2 separate regions of the Homo sapiens genome follow, and region 2 is linked to region 1. The links come from fine-mapping of genetic effects on gene expression. Tissue or cell type: monocytes after R848. Region 1 holds a variant in brackets; the other region holds the start of a gene. All regions are shown on one strand. Distances are from middle to middle.

Evidence for each region. PIP is the estimated chance that this variant, and not a neighbour inherited with it, causes the effect.
Region 2: it holds the start of SNHG15, and the variant in region 1 is fine-mapped to the expression of SNHG15 in monocytes after R848 (Quach 2016, PIP 0.95).

What each region holds. Positions count from the first base shown.
Region 1 is chr7:45,117,247-45,125,348 of GRCh38, forward strand. No RefSeq gene overlaps it. Among named protein-coding and RNA genes, the nearest start is that of TBRG4, 9.6 kb to the left of the region's middle. RefSeq lists a silencer at 1,732-1,831 and an enhancer at 6,607-7,432. The variant C/T (reference allele first, on the strand shown) is at 4,007.
Region 2 is chr7:44,983,034-44,991,135 of GRCh38, forward strand. It overlaps SNHG15 (small nucleolar RNA host gene 15), which reads right to left and starts at 3,663. Exons shown (of 3, transcript NR_152597.1): 1 at 3,492-3,663; 2 at 789-1,013; 3 at 1-289. SNORA9 (small nucleolar RNA, H/ACA box 9) reads right to left here and starts at 2,477; the gene lies at 2,345-2,477. RefSeq lists a silencer at 2,055-2,235 and enhancers at 2,762-3,508, 3,354-3,473, 3,509-4,256, 7,908-8,102.

The sequences.
Region 1 (8,102 bases):
GTCTAAGGTCAGCCTGGCTCCCTGCTCTGGCCATACACAGCCTGTTCTACCCTGCTATCTATGTGGCAAACTGAGGCCCAGGGAGGGCAGGACTTGCCTAAGGACACATGGAGAGTGAGTGTCCAGGTCTTCTGCCACCAGCCCCAGGCCTCCCCCTGCTTCTGTGCCTGCCCGGGGCTCTGTCCCAGCTGGACTCAGAGTGGTGGGTCTTTTGCACCCCCAGCAGGAAACCCTCAGCAGGGCCAACAGTCCTGACCTCTGCCAACCCTTCCAGAAATCCACAGAACATCTCATCCATCCTTCCTTCTCATCCACCAAGAAGGCCACAGCACCCTCCTCATGCAGTGTGGTGAGAGGTGTGGTACAGTGTGCAGAGTGGGTCGTGACAGCCACAGCCCAGTGGACCCAGCCCTGTCCTGCACCAGTAGGGCCCAGCTCATAGCCGTTCCTGGCTTTCAGTCAACCTGGGCTCCTGCTCTGGAGGCCACTGACATTGAGTACCTGTGCTAACAGATGTGCAGGTGAGAAGGCCTCTGGGGGTACGGGTGATGGAGCTGGGAAGGGGCCAAGGTGGTCCACCTTATCAGAGTCCTGGGAGCTCCGGTGGCAGCTGCCATGAGAATGCAGTGGGAGATGGTGGAGTGGCCCCATGGATCTCTCTGGCATGGATGCTCAGCCTCTAAAGGGGGCTGTTTTACCAGCTTGTAAAATCTACCCAAGTAGGGTACAGGCTGGGCTGTCTTGGGGGAAAAAACATTAAAACTTAAAGCAGTGTTTTATATGGAAAAATATGAAAGGGTTTTTTTTTTTTTTTTTTGAGACAGTCTCACTCTGTTGTCCAGGCTGGAATGCAGTGGTGCGATCTTGGCCCACTGCAACCTCCGCCTCCCAGGTTCAAGCGATTCTCCTGCCTCAGCCTCCCAAGTAGCTGGTATTACAGGTGTGTGCCACCATGTCCGGCTCATTTTTTGTATTTTTAGTGGAGACAAGGTTTCGCCATGTTGGCCAGGCTGGTCTTGAACTCCTGACCTCAGGTGATCCACCCGCCTTGGCGGCCTCCCAAAGTGTTGGGATTACAGGCGTGAACCACTGTGCCCGGCTGGGACTATTTTAAAATATCATGTATTAATAAAAAATTTGAGGTTCATGAAGACTGATGGATCAGGAGATGATTGCCATTGAGAAGCTAGTTTATTACTCTCAGTTCTGGAGAGAAGGGCACATGCCACACCACAGGGGCCACATGGGAAAACACTGGGGTTGGCCCTGAGGCAGAGGAATGGGGCAGGGAGTGGTGGGCAAGAGCCTTTACTGTGGTTTCTGTGGGAAAGAACAGGTAAGGCAGGGCGACAGTTTAGGATTGGGTGGTTTGAGTAACTTCAGGGCCTGGAGCAGAAGGGCTGTCCCTCATTGTCTGATACCTGGCCCTGGAGTGATTAGAGCAAGTCCATAGTGGCCAGAGTGTGAGAGCCCCATAGAGGAGGTGTTTGAGGGTGTGAGCATTGGATTGGTTGGTTTGTGTTTGAAAAGTGTACCCTGCCCAGGAGGAGGACTCTTCCTGAGAGGTGAGGAGCTGATGAGGGAGGCAGAAGGCCAAGGCAAGGTGATTCAGGCCCATCATCAGGGTGCAGAACCAAGTCTGTCCAGCATATACATACAAGGCAGATGTTAAAGCATTGTTTGCAGAAGCTGGAAACATAGTCAATACAGGGGCCAGGGCAGGGTGAAACTTCTCTGTAGGGGAGGAGCCTCCAGCATCAGGGGATGGATGTGTCTCCTGCAGCCTAACTCTGAGCTGCAGGCTAGACAAGGTTGGGTGGTTCCAGCTGCCCAGGCTGGCCTCAGGGTCCCAGCATGAGCAGCAGTGCATGGAGGTGGTACGGCTCCATTTCAGCCCTGCCTCTCCCCAGCACCTGACCAGCATGGGAGGCTGAGTGCTGGGCCTTGGTGGGCAGGGACAGACGGGGATGGGGAAAGGGTATGTCCGCTGGCCTCCAGCCTGCAGGACCTCCTGGTAGCTTCTCCTTGAGATGGGGAGGGGCAGGCCTGGTGCAGCAGTATGCAGGGGTCCTGGCCTGGGAGAGCAGGCTGCTGGCTTCCCACCAACACAGTGCATCATTGACAGGGCCTCCACGGGACCTGTTGACCCACCTTTCCCATACCTGTGTCTCAGGCTGCTGGGCCAGGTGCCACAAGGTGACCATGTTACCTGCTGGTCCTCCTTTCACATAGATCTGGCCTCCTTGTGGCGCCCCCTCAGCCCACCCAAGTCATTCCTCTGATGAGAGGTTCTCTTCTGTGCTACACTCCCACCTTGTGCTTTACCAAATTCAGGGCCTGCCCCTCTCCCACCAATCCTGGTCCCCAAACACTCCCTGGCCTGGAGGGCCAGCCCACAGGCCCTTTCTGGTTCCCCTCTTTTTATTTAGAGAATGTGCAAATTTTTTGAAAAGCTAAGAGCATGGTACGGTGACTATCCATAAATCTGTCATCTAGATTCAGCAAGAATTTGGCCATACTTCCGTCTTCCTTCTTTATCCCTACCCCTGCCTCACCCCCGCTTGTTCTCACTGTACATATGTGTGTATGTATTTGTGTGTATGTGTGCATGCATGTATATGTGTGTGTTGTGCATACATGTATATACATGTGTGGGTATATGTATGTCTTGTGTGTACATGTATGTATGTGTGTGTGTGTATGTATATCACAGTCTGCTCAGGCTGCTATGACAGAATATTATAGACTGCATGGCTTAAATGACAGAAATTTATTTCTCACATTCCTAGAGGCTGGAAGTCCAAGATCAAGGTGGCAGTAGATGTGGTGTCTGGTAGAGGCTGTCTGGGCTGTCTTCCTGGTGTGCATGTGACCATCTTCTTGTTGTATTCTCACATGGCCAAGAGCAGAGAGAGAGCTCTCTGTGGTCCCTTTCCACTCGTGAGGGCTCCACTCTCATGATCTAATTATCCCCCAAAGGCCCCACCTCCGAATGTTATACCTTCACCTCACCTTAGTGGTGAAGATTTCAACATATGAATTTTGGAAGAGGAAGGATGAACATTCAGACCATGCAATGTAAGTGTTTATATTTGTGTATGTTTATAAGCATATGAATATAGGCATGCATATGCGTGTGTGTATGTGCTGTATATATACAATTCAAAAGTTTTCTTGGTTTGTTTGCTTGCTGAATCCTTTGAAAGTGAGCTGTAGGCTGGCCGGACACAGCGGTTCACGCCTGTAATTCCAGCACTTTGGGAGGCCGAGGCAGGAGGATCACGAGGTCAGAAGATCGAGACCATCCTGGCTAACACGGTGAAACCCTGCCTCTACTAAAATTACAAACAAAAAAAATTAGCTGGGCATGGTGGTGCATGCCTGTAGTCCCAGCTACTCAGGAGGCTGAGGCAGGAGAATTGCTTGAACCCAAGAGGCGGAGGTTGCAGTGAGCCAAGATCGTGCCACTGCGCTGCAGCCTGGGTGACAGAGGGAGACTCCATCTCAAAAAAAAAAAAAAGAAAGAAAGAAAGAAAGTGAGCTGTAGACATCACAAACTTCTCCCTTAAGCACTTTAGCAGCAAACATTGTCCATGTGACCCCACTGTAATTATCCTACTAGGGAAATTAACATTGATGCAATAAGGCCATCTGATTCAGGTCCATATCCGAATGTCCCCAATTGACCTTTGTCTCCTTAATCTCTATGATTGTTGTTGTTGTTATTTGTTTGTTTGTTTTTGAGACAGGGTCTTGTTTGGTAGCCCAGGCTGAGTGCAGTGGTGCAAACACAGCTCACTGCAGCCTTGACCTCCTGGGCTCAAGCTATCCTCCCACATCAGCCCCCCCAGGTAGCTGGGTCCACAGGCATGCACCACCACACCTGGCTAATTTTTGTATTTTTGATAGAGATGGGTTTTGCCATGTTGCCAAGACTGGTCTCAAACTCCTGAGCTCGAGGGCTGCCTCAGCCCCCAAAAGTGCTAGGATTACAGGTGTGAGCCAC[C/T]GTGCCTGGCCTATTTTTAATTTTTTTCACATGTAAGCCTTCCTGCACCACATTTCTTCCATGTCTTAGTATCACTCTCAACTCTGGGGTTTTTAGAAATTCAGCGTGCTGTACTCTGTCCTCGTCAGTACCCTCACGGCGCTCATGTGTGGCAGGCTCATGTGTCCCTCCAGCAGATCATCATTGGTCAGGCGGACGCCAGCACTCCCCTTGTGCCTTCTTTGCCCATCTATTTCTCCAAGGAATCCTGCTGCCTTTCAGTGGAGGATTGTTCATGAACAAAATCCAGGCACTAGTTGAACCCCTTCATGTGTGGGATGGTTCATCCCATTTCCCAAGCCCCTGACATGTCATGTGAACTCAAAGATGTATTGAGTTATTGAGTGAACACAGAGAGGCAATGATGGAGACAGCAAAGCTGAAGATGATGCAAAGACCTAGCATCTCAAACAGTCCTTGCACTCCTGGTCCCTGGTCCCTGACACCAGTGTCTTCTGAGATGGCCCCTGGTGCCCCAGACTCCCCACTTCACTGGTTGGGCCCTGCCTTCAAGACAGCTCTGGGTGCTCTGTTTTAGGGGGACCCTTCTTGTCCTTCTGCACATGGCTCTGGGGAACTCTTTTTGGGGGCCTTCCTCTCTTCCTGTACACATCAGCAGTGAGCAGGCTCTTTCTTCTGGGAGGCCCCTGTGCACCTCAAGGGCAGCAGCTTGGCCAGGACAGCCTGGTCCCTCTGTGTGCAACACCTAGGAAGGCCTGGCACTTATGGGTTAAAGGTCAGTCCTGCCTTCCTCCTCCATTCACTGACAGAGCATGATGATGGAGGTCTCTGTGGGCACTGAAGCCGTAGGGAAGTGACCTTACCAGGTCACATAACCAGTGAGCGTGGCTCTCATGGATGTGGGCTCCTCATGAGTGTGGGCTCCCGGAGAATCTAGGCTTGCTGTGAGTGTGGCTTGCTTGGGCCGGCCCTGTTGTTCTCCCTTGCAAGCTCTGAGGAGGCAGGGATGGAGGAAGCTGAGCAATATCTCCAGGTCCCACCTTCATCTCAGCCAGCCTGATGGTATGGGTCGTCTCCTTGACCTTATGTGCTGGGTCAGTGAGCCAAATGGGGCTGACCTCAGGTCAGGCCTGGGCCTGGGGCCCCTGGGCTCCTGCAGAAACCTAGGCAGGTGAGGTAGTGGACCCCTCCCTCTGGCTTGACCAGGGCCCAGCCTGCCTCCTATGTCCTGCCGGAGCACACACAGAGAGGACCCCCATTCAAAATGTCTCTGCTTTATCATGGACTCTCCCAAGGCTGTGGCTTCGTGTTTTCGAGGCTCTCATCTGGACTTGATCCAATTCGAGCCACTCCTCAAGTGCAGCCACAGAACACGGGGAGGCTGGTGATTTTTTTGAGTACAGCTCCTTTCTTCTTGCTGCTTAAGCTCAATCATTTGATTTTCTTCTTTCTGCTGAGACCCTTGGCCCCTGGTGAGCTAACTGGATTCCTCTCGACCCCCAAGCCAGGAGCACAGCCAGGGTGTAGAAAGTGTTTGGAGAAAGAAAATCCCACTAGAGGCGTTTTAGACAAATTTTTTCAAACATGTGAAAAAGCAGCCTAGAGTTGAGGAGAATAAAAACCCCTTCTTTCAAGTTGCCTTGTATACCGTGTTCAGCTTTTTTGTTGCTAAAAGATAATTTTCAAAAAAGGGAAAAATCATGACTCTTCTATACAATAGATACAAAGTGAACAAGGGACAAGAGATTTAATTTAACTCTAGAGGGATCAGGCTCAAACCAAAGAGCAGACACAGGTACAGGTTAGGACGATGAAACTGCTATACGAATGGAGACAGAACTGTTTCCTCTGTGTGAGAGTAAGTGTGCATCCTGTGTGCGACAGAGGGGCTGGAGCTTGGTGCCGACAGGCACTGGCCATTAGCGATCCTCCCAGCCGCTCAACAGGCCTGTGTCACTGCACAAGTCAAGTGCAGTTCCCTGGGGCCGCAGGGATCTGGCCAGGTGTGAGTTCCCACACAGCCATCTTCTTGGGTGCCTGATGGCCAACACTGTGGACCCTGAAATGACCAGCAGAGCTGCATGTCCTGTTGTGTGAGGCAGCCGTGTGTGGACACAGAGCTCAGTGTCTCTGTGGGGTGGTGACTGTCTTCCAGGGACATAATATTCTAAACACCCCTGACCTAGAGCAGCATCCACACTCACCCCACCCCTTCCTCTCACTTCCTTTGCACTTCCTGTAACCACACCTTTGCCCTTGCCATGCCACCGAAACTGGCCCAGGCCTAGGCAACCTCTGAGCTACCAGACCCCCACAGGCTCAGCTCCTGATCTTGTCCCCATGAGCAGGGCTAGCAACACCTCTGAAGGGGGTCAGCCCCGGGAGATCTGGCCAGTGTCTCCAGAACCTAGTGGAGAGGCCTTTCCTGGCCCAGAGATGCCACCATGGCTGTGTATTCTCACCAGAGGTCAGCCGCCTGTTGAGTGCACCTGGCTGGACTCCCCCACCCACCTGGACATGCTTATCGCCACGGGGTTTCCCTGTTCCCGGCCAGCTGCCTTGTCTGCCTGGAGCACCCAGGGATGAGGCCTGCGTTTGCTTCGTTCCTCCCTCAGGAGCCCGGGACAGATACACAGAAAGACAAACACATGAAGCTGAGTGGATTTTTAAATTAGCAGCCGTAGAAGGCATCATGCACTCTCTGGATCCAAGAGAGATGGTTTCTGTCGAGCAGACTTGGGTGGGTCACTCCTGGCAGCAGGGGCTCCCAGGGGAAGGTCTCTCACTGAGAGGTGTTCTCTGCAGGGGGGCACGGGGAACTCAGATGCAGTACAGAGCCCGGCCAGGGGGGTGGTGGGGAGGAGGGAGGTCATCCGCTGTCCATTGTTCATGTGCTAATGTGTTCACGCCCACAGGCCCGGGGACCTGCGCTGCTGGCCCCTTTGCTGTTGTGCAGGGGAGCAAGCAGAGCCCTGCACCCCACTGGCTTTCCCCCAGCCCTCACCTCGCCTGCAGACAGGTGGATGAGGCCACCCTCATATGCCAGAAAGGGAGTCCAGGTCATAGGTGGGCTTGGACGGTTAGCCCAGAACCCATGTTTGGAACCCCTGACCTAGAGCTCTCCCAATATTTGGGAGGTAAGCTGCTCTCTGCAGTGAAGTGGGAGAGGCACAGGCTTTGCACACAGGTCGAGCAGCACTGGGCCTGCCAGTCATTTGCCTCCCTGGGCCACTTTCACTCACTGACACTCACTCCCAGCCTGAGTGGCTTCCTTGAGTGCCTGGGGGCCTGCAGCTGGCATAGTCTGGGTTGGTGTGCCGAGCCCTATCTGCCCCCAGGGCCTGCTCATGGACTGCACCCACTTTCAAGGCCCCACTGAAGGCCCAAGCTGGCCAGGGGAAGCTCAGGGAGAAAGGGAACTCATACCTAGGACAGGGGCCAGACACTTCATGGCACAGCGGCTGAAGCGGCACTTCTTTTCTCCCTAACACCCGCCGTCCATGGAGCACTCACTCTGCTCCTCGCAGAGCTCTGGGCTCACTGCAGGCTGCACCCAGGGGCAGCTGCCAATCTTTGGGGCTGATACTAGGGGAGAGATGGGCCAGCCCTTCATCACCCAAAGCCCTTTTATGCTTCCCAGCCTTGCTGGGCCCACCTCCCAGGGCTCCCCATGCCAAAAATACCCATTTTATAAATGAGGAAGTTGGGCTGGGCGCTGTGGCTCATGCCTGTAATCCCAGCACTTTGGGAAGCCAAGGAAGGAGGATCACAAGGTCAGCAGTTCGAGACCGGCCTGGCCAACATGGTGAAACCCTGTCTCTACTAAAAAAAAAAAACTACAAAAATTAGCTGGGTGTGGCAGATACTTGGGAGGCTGAGGCACAAGCATTGCTTGAACCTGGATGGTAGAGGTTGCAGTGAGCCGAGATCGCTCCACTGCACTCCAGCCTGGGCAGCACAGCGAGACTCAGTCTCAAAAACATAAAAAAAAAATAAAAATAAATAAAATAAAAAATAAATGGGGAAGTTGAGCCTCTGTTCTGCTCTGGGGTCAGATGTGTCCCCGGGGCCTCCTTTCTGCTGATCTCATGGCAGG
Region 2 (8,102 bases), 130 kb before region 1:
AATCCATATTTATTAAATATCCCTTGTTTTTCATTCAGGAGATACCAGAAGGGCCCAGGTCCTGGTGCACAGCAAAGCTTCTCATTCTGGAAGCAGAGAACCTGGCACCCAAACCTAGGGCCAGAGGTCTGTCTGCCAGACCCACAGCCCAGGCCCAGAACTGGAAATTCCTGACTCCTTCCAGAAGGGCAACAAGCGAGGTTTCAAACTTGCTCAATTAAGGTGCCAAGGCTTGCATTCAAATTCAGCTCCACTCCTCACTAGGTGTATTAACACAGGCAGGCCTCATCTGTAAAAATGAGATGAGAAACACTTCAGAGACCTGTTGTGAAAATTAAGTGACATAATTGACACAACTAGGGATTATTACAAACCCCTGTTGCCATCGGTGGCAACAACAGAACTGAACCCTACTTACCAACTCCTGAACCCACTCCCACCATGAGCTGAGAGGCCTGTGACCAACCTCAGTGGCAGCCCATGCCCTTTCCAGGGGCTGAAACACTGGCCACTGACCTAAGGTAACTCCGGAGAAAAGACTATATATGTTGAAACCAAATCACAAAAGCAGTAAAATACCACCCTCAAGAATCAGGGTTCATGAGTCCAAACACTAGACAACTGTTTGTCCCAAAATAGTATTGTGAGCTTGAAGACAATGAACCTTTCTGGGATTCAATCACCTGACTTACCATACGGGAAGGTCAAAATACTTTTCATTAGCCAGGTGACTCTAAATAAAACAGGAGTGAAGTGACTTGCCAGGTCAGACCTTCCTGCACACTTACCCCTGCACAGGTTCCAAGGAACAGCCTGGCAGCCACTGAAGGTATCTTCTCTCAGGTCAGGTCCCCTCTAGCTCCAGCATCTTGGGATTGCTGCTGTAGAAACACTGACGGATGGCAGGCACTCTTGTGCCATGTGCTGGGTCAGGGACACAGAGTGAAGCCACTGGTGAGAGGTGGCTGTCAGGAACTGGCAGCTAACACGGTCGCCTCCCAGTTTCATGGACACTGGTAGAAAATACAAAATTCCTCGATTAGGGACAAGGGACCACTGATTATTCAAAACAATAGCAATAGCCAGAGCATCAGCATTTTCCACCACCCTCCCAAGCCCCAGTTCCCATAGGGGAGTCAGAGGCACCTGCATGAGCCATTGGACTACTACAAGAAAGGAGCGCAGGACTCTACCCTTTCACAACGCACAGCAAGAATGCCTGCCCTCTGCTCTGGAAGAAGGTACTAACCTCTTACCTTCCAAGGTGGTAGAACATGCTTGAAAAGATAGTAAGTGAAAAGGGGTAGCCAGTGCTTTACTCACAAGACTGCTTGAACATGAGACTCAAGGAGGGACCTCAGCAGGCCTGGGGTGTTCAGCAACTATTCCTGGCCTGAAAAGACAGAATCAGCTGAAAGCCTCTACCTTTAAGAGAGGTGACCCCACCACCCAGAGGAACACAGGAGCTGTGCTGCTCGTGCTATGCTCAAGCCAGCAACACTCTTCTCATCCCAGCCAGTCCTTTAACACACCTAACACCAAGACAAGAACTTGAAGGCATCCATCTCCTTCCCATCCAAACTTCCCACCGGCTTCTATATTCCACTCAGGATGCAGGGTTAGAGAGGCCTGGCATCAAACCCTGATCTGCTGGTTTGTGGCTGGGCAACCCTGGACACATAATTCTGACCTTGGGCCCCTCATCTGTACTGAACTTAAAAACGACCTCATGATGATACCTCAAAGATTTAAAACAATTAAGAGGTCTGGCGCAAAATAGGTGTTCAACATTAGCACCTTCCTCTTCCATGAGTTTTTCCTTTAAGATGAGCACACATTGACCTCACCCTCCACTAGCTCCTGGGGCACTCAGCTCCTCTGCAGAACTGAGACTTTGGTTCTCTTTGCTTTGCCTTGTAAATATCCTATTCCATGAGTCTCTCAGGGCAGGACTCTTCCCTGTTATTCCTCTTCACTGTTTCAACTCCTACCCTTACCACCACTCTTGGCTTCATCCTCAACTTTTATAAGACTTTTGCTTTAAGTGTATAATAAAATAAAATTTGTACTGAGCCTGGAGCACAGCAAACACTCAGGATTCCCTTCACCTTTCACACCAGCATTGTCCAAAACAACTTCCACAGCGACAGAAATGCCCTCTAATCTGTGCGGTCCAATATGGTAGCCACTGGCCACCTGTGGCTACTGATCATCTGAAATGTGGCTAGTGTGAAAATGAAATAAAACTCCAAATTTAATTTAATCATGTGTGCCAAGTGGCTACCACATTAGATGGCACGGATCTATACAAGGCCCAGGACACTAGATCCAGGAGGGAGGAAGTCATTGTCTGAAATTTCTATAACCTTGCTCTGGATGGAGCAGGGCAAGGCCTCAAACCGTTTCAAAACTGTTCTAGCAAGCACTGAAGGAATGCATAGGGTCACCGCAGACCCAAGCACGCTGGAGGCTTGCTACCCTCATTCACCCAAATCCCCCACACTCAAGGAATCTGGCAGTCCACTCTCACTAAGCACCAGTCCCTGCTGGGGGCTGTGGGAAGAGACCAGAGTTCAATTAGGCACCTGAGCTTGGTTCCAGGAGCCCAGAGCTACTAATGACTCTCAGGGAAAGATCCTTTCTGGCTGAGGAAGAAGGGAAGGTGTCTTGGAAGAGATAACCTTATTAAATTATTAAATAGATCAGACAACACGAACTAAACTTCCACATTATTCTATGACACTACAATTCTAGCATGGCTTTTCACTGTGACCAGAAACATCCTTATCATCATGTAGTTAATATAAATACTGCCTTTTCCCCTTCATTTTTTTCTCATGTATCTTACGGCTCAGAAATCACTTCTGAAGGAGTAAGTAGACCAGGCACATGAAGTAGATTTCATTTTCCCCATGAAATAATGGTTCAGAGAAAACGCAGGCCTAGTTCCAGGAAGGCAGAGTTGGGGTCTCTGCAACGTGATTTACCGGGGCATCTTGCAAAGGAGTTGCTGTGACAGTAAGCTCTTCCACTTTGAGACCGTCACCTCAGCCACGGCTCCCACCTAGAAGGGAACAAATGCAGTTAGCTCCAAACGCAGTTAGCTTCAGCTTGTGCCTCTGAACCATTATCCAGCTCTAGCTCCTTGCAACGCCTGGCCCACTCTACAGCCTCTCTTGCGGCAGGTCTACACGCCACCCCATGCCTTCCGGTGAGGTCCCTCCTGACCACACGTCCCATCCCACCTACTGGGGTCCACCCAGGTCATGCAGAAGCCCCACTTCTCGGCTGAAAGAGAAGCACGAGGTTACTCATCAAGTAATCCCCGAGTCTCCTCCGGGTAAAATGTTCCGAACGCGCTCAACCGCCTCTTGAGAGGAAGTAGCACGTGTAGTGAAGGCTTGGTCTCCAAGAATCACTGGTGCCCCCACTCACTGCGGCCCAGCCTCCCACGCCGCCCGCCACTGAACCCAATCCCCCAGGACCCCTACCTGGGCTCAGGAATGGTCAGGCAACACGTGGGGCCCAGGATGGCGGTGGATGACTAGACTGCCGAAGACCGCGCCGCTGCGACTACGAAGTACGGAGTACGGAGTACAGGTCTGCCAGCCAAGACTGACGCCGCGCGCTGCGCCGCGCACCTCGACGTCACCGCGTAGTCCCGCCCCGAAGCCGTGCGTGGCCGGGGCCACAGCGTTTGGGGTAGATGACGTCACGCGGCCGCGGGCGCTCGCTTGGTAGGGTGTGCTGGGGCGTAGAGTTTAGGGTCCTGAGGCTGCGTCTGCGTGTCAACTCAGTGGAGTCTCTCGACCGCCCTTTGTTACCCTCCTTTAGTGACCAGAAGGCTGGAGTTACGTAATCTGCCCCTACAGCTAAAAGGACGGAGGCCTGACGGCGTGGCCTGGAGGGACGCGCTGAGCCCCTAATGGGTGGTGCCTTCCTGGTGCGGCCGCACAGGCGGGGCCGGGCGGAATCCAAGCACGATGTGGACACGGAGCCTTGGGAATGAACAGGAGCCTGCCTGTGGGAGCATGTGGGAAAGGTGATGCAGGTGGAAGGGCAAATACAAATTATACATAGGGTTTAATTTTCCCTGAGGAAAAGAAGGGACGAGAAACCATCCCCCTCCCTTTTTCTTTCAAAATTTCAGCCTCTCTCCTTTCCAAATGTACTCAAGTCTTTTTCTTATATGGCCAGGTTCAACTCAGGAATGTTTCTTGGGAGCCATCTCCTTGAAGTGTAATTGTTGGCTGGGTGCGGTGGCTCACGCCTGCAATCCCAGCACTTTGGGAGGCTGAGGCGGGCGGATCACAAGATCAAGAGATCGAGACCATCCTGGCCAACATGGTGAAACTCTGTCCCTACTAAAAATACAAAAATTAGCTGGGCATGGTGAAGCGTGCCTGTAGTACCAGCTACTCGGGAGGCTGAGGCAGGAGAATCGCTTGAACCCGGGAGGCGGAGGTTGCAGTGAGCCGACATAGCACCACTGCACTCCAGCCTGGAGACAGAGCGAGACTCTGTCTCAAAAACAAAGAAAGAAAAAAATGCAATTGTTAAGGGACGAAAGGGCCAAGAGTCCAGCTTCTTAGGAGGACAAAGGCTTAACTTGGCACCTGACTCCAAATTGCAAAACCTACATAATGTGATGGGCTATCTCTACTTAGCTGCATAGAAAAAGTGAGTTTCTGTCTTTGTGTTGCCTTTAGCAGGTTGCATGTGATGTACGGCATCACAATCTGGTTTAATACTTATTCAGTAATGGTTTTCTGTCTCTTCTACCTTTGTGGAGAGGTTTCATGGGTTGGGAGGAAACTACTCTCCACCCCCCACCCACCCCCAGGCAGAGGAAAGCACATTGAAAGGTCCTGAAATTGGGAAGGACATGGTTTGCTGGTGATACAGCTAAGTATTACAAGTTTGTAGTGTTCTGGAAGGGTCTCAATGAGGAGCGGGAGATAAGGACGATGTGTTCAAGGGTCTTGAATGATCAGGCTAGAAAAGTGAGAACGTGGTTCTATAAGTAAAAGCAGAGCAGTGCTTGAAACTCGTATTTTATGTATTGCACCTAGTAAATACATTCAATCACTTTACAGTATACAAATCCCATACTTCACTAAGTGTCAAAACCCTAACAGACAGATAAGGCAGAACTGTTACTTCCAGATTACTAACGTGGAAACTAAGCCCCACCCAAACAAGTTAAGTGGTTTGTTCAAGACCTCCTACAACAGGCTGGGCGCGGTGGCTTATGCCTGTCATCCCAGCACTTTGGGAGGCCGAGGCGGGGAGGCGGGTGGATCACCTGAGGTCAGGAATTTGGGGCTAGCCTGACTGACATGGAGAAACCCGGTCTCTACTAAAAATACAAAATGAGCCGGGCGTGGTGGTGCCTGCCTGTAATCCCAGCTACTTGGGAGGCTGAGGCAGGAGAATTGCTTGAACCCAGGGGGCGGAGGTTGCGGTGAGCCGAGATCGCGCCATTGCACTCTAGCCTGGACAACAAGAGTGAAACTCCATCTCAAAAAAAAAAAAAAAAAAAAGGACCTCCTACAACAGCCAGGGCCTGGTGCAGGTTGTCCTAGCACAGGGTTCACTGGTCTGTCCATTCTGCCACTGCTATGAGATTGTAATGGCCCAACAGGTTCACCTTGCCTGCTGCCTAGGCAGAACCAATTTATCAAGACAGGTGAATTGCAATAGAGAAAGAATAATTCATGCAGAGCCAGCTGTGTGGGAAACTGGGACTTTTTTTATTACTCAAATGAGTCTCCCCAAGCATTTGGAGGTCACAGTTTTTAAGGATAATTTGGAGGGTGGGTGGCATCCAGTGAGTCAGGAGTGCTGATTGATCGGGTCAGAGATGAAATCATAGGGAATTGAAGCTGTCTTGTGCTTGAGTCAGTTCCTGGGTGGGGGCCACAAGATCTGATGAGCCAGTTTATCGATCTGGGTGGTGCCAGCTGATCCATCCAGTGCGAGGTCTGCAAAATATCTCAAGCACTGATCTTAGACTTCAGTGATGTTATTCCCGGGAGCAATTTGGGGAGGGTCAGAATCCTGTAGCCTCTAGCTGCATGACTCCTAAATCATAATTTCTAATCTTTTGGCTAATTTGTTACTCCTACAAAGGCATTCTGGTCCCCAGGCAAGATGGGGGTTTGTTTTGGGAAAGGGCTATTATTGTCTTTCTTTTAAACTATAAACTAAGTTCCTCCCAAAGTTAGTTCAGCCTACACTCAGGAATGAACAAGGACAGCTTGGAAGTTAGAAGCAAGATGGAGTTGGTTCGGTCAGATCTCTGTCACTGTCTCAGTTATAATTTTGCAATGGTGGTTTCAAGATGATGAAAGAGTACTGGGAAAGTAAATAGCTACGAAGGGCCAGAGAAGGTGTGTTACTGAAGAAAGTGGGATCTCCCAAGGGACTCAAAGAGAAGAGCTTTTTAACACAGTGATAACCCCAAAAAATTCACTAGAGAAGTGGGGGATGCGGCCAGGCGCGGTGGCTCACACCTGTATTCCCAGCACTTTGGGAGGCTGAGGTGAGCGGATCACCTGAGGTCAGGAGTTCCAAGACCAGCGTGGCCAACATGGTGAAACCCCGTCTCTACTAAAAATACAAAAATTAGCTGGGTGTGGTAGTGCATGCCTGCGGTCCCAGCTACTCAGGAGGCTGAGGCAGGGGAATCGCTTGAACTCAGGAGGTGGAGGTTGCAGTAAGCCGAGATGGCGCCACTGTACTCCAGCCTGGGTGACACAGCGAGACTCCAGCTCAAAAACAAACAACAAAGAGCCAGGCGTGGTGGCTCACACCTGTAATCCCAATACTTTGGAAGGCAGGTTAGGAGTTCAAGAGCAGGCTGGCCAACATGGTGAAACGCCATCTCTACTAAAAATACAAAAAATTAGCCGGGCATGGTAGCACACGCCTGTGATCCCAGCTACTTGGGAGGCTGAGGCAGGAGAATTGCTTGAACCTGGGAGGCAGAGGTTGCTTGAACCCAGGAGGCAAAGCCAAGTTTGTGCCATTGCACTCCAGCCTGGGCAATAGAGTGAGACTCTGTCTCAGAAAAAAAAGAGAAGGGGAGATGCTTACTTATTATCAAAGTAATTAGAGGCCAGACATCGTGGCCTGTAATCCCAGCACTTCAGGAGGCTCAGACAGGAGGATTGCTTTAGCCCAGGAGTTCAAGACCAGCTTGAGCAACATCACAAAACCCGTCTCTACAAAAAGTTTAAAAATTAGCCAGTCATGGTGGCGTCCGCTGATAGTCCCAGCTACTCAGGAGGCTGAGGTGGTGGGAAGATCACTTGAGCCCCAGAGGTTGAGGCTGCAATGAGCTGTGATTATGCCAATGCATTCCAGCTTGGGTGACACACCCAGACCCCGTCTCAAAAACAAAACAAAAAAAACAAAATCTGAAAGGATGCCAAAACATAAAAATCACATTATCAGTTTAATTGTGATTTTGCTGGGAAACTGCATGAGACTGGCACAAAGAGAGAAACATGACAGCAGTATTTTAACTGCTTATCAGAATACTAAAAATAACTTTCTTCAAACCCACATCTCAAATGAGTAATTCCATTGTTCTTCCAGGCCAACTAGTGACGCACGATATTTTTCTTCTTAGTTCAGCTAAAATCTGGGCTCTTGTCTCCCGATCAGGAAAAATTAGGCACATGGACACATTGAAGGGTCAGAATGTATTAAGTGAAAAGAAAGCCCTTAGCAAAGAGGTGGTCCTGCCAACAGGCTCCTACTCCACAGACTGAATATCAGGCCACCATACTGGAGCTGAAGAAGCCCGGCTCCCCTGCATAAAGCATGAATTCCTGGTGGCTCCACCCCATTTCCCCAGTGCACATGTAGGCCTCTAATCTGAGCCACTCCACACTGATTTATTTCCCTTACTGCACATGTGTTAAGGGATAGAATTTTTCACTGTAGGCATGTTTAGGCAAGCCCCCTGTGCATAATGACCTGGATGGCATTTGGCTGTCTCCCGCCTCTATCAGTAGCATATTTAGGGGAGGAAAGATGAATTTTCTTGCTACCCTTCTAAATTCTCAGCTAGAGTCCTTGTAACAAAAGATAGA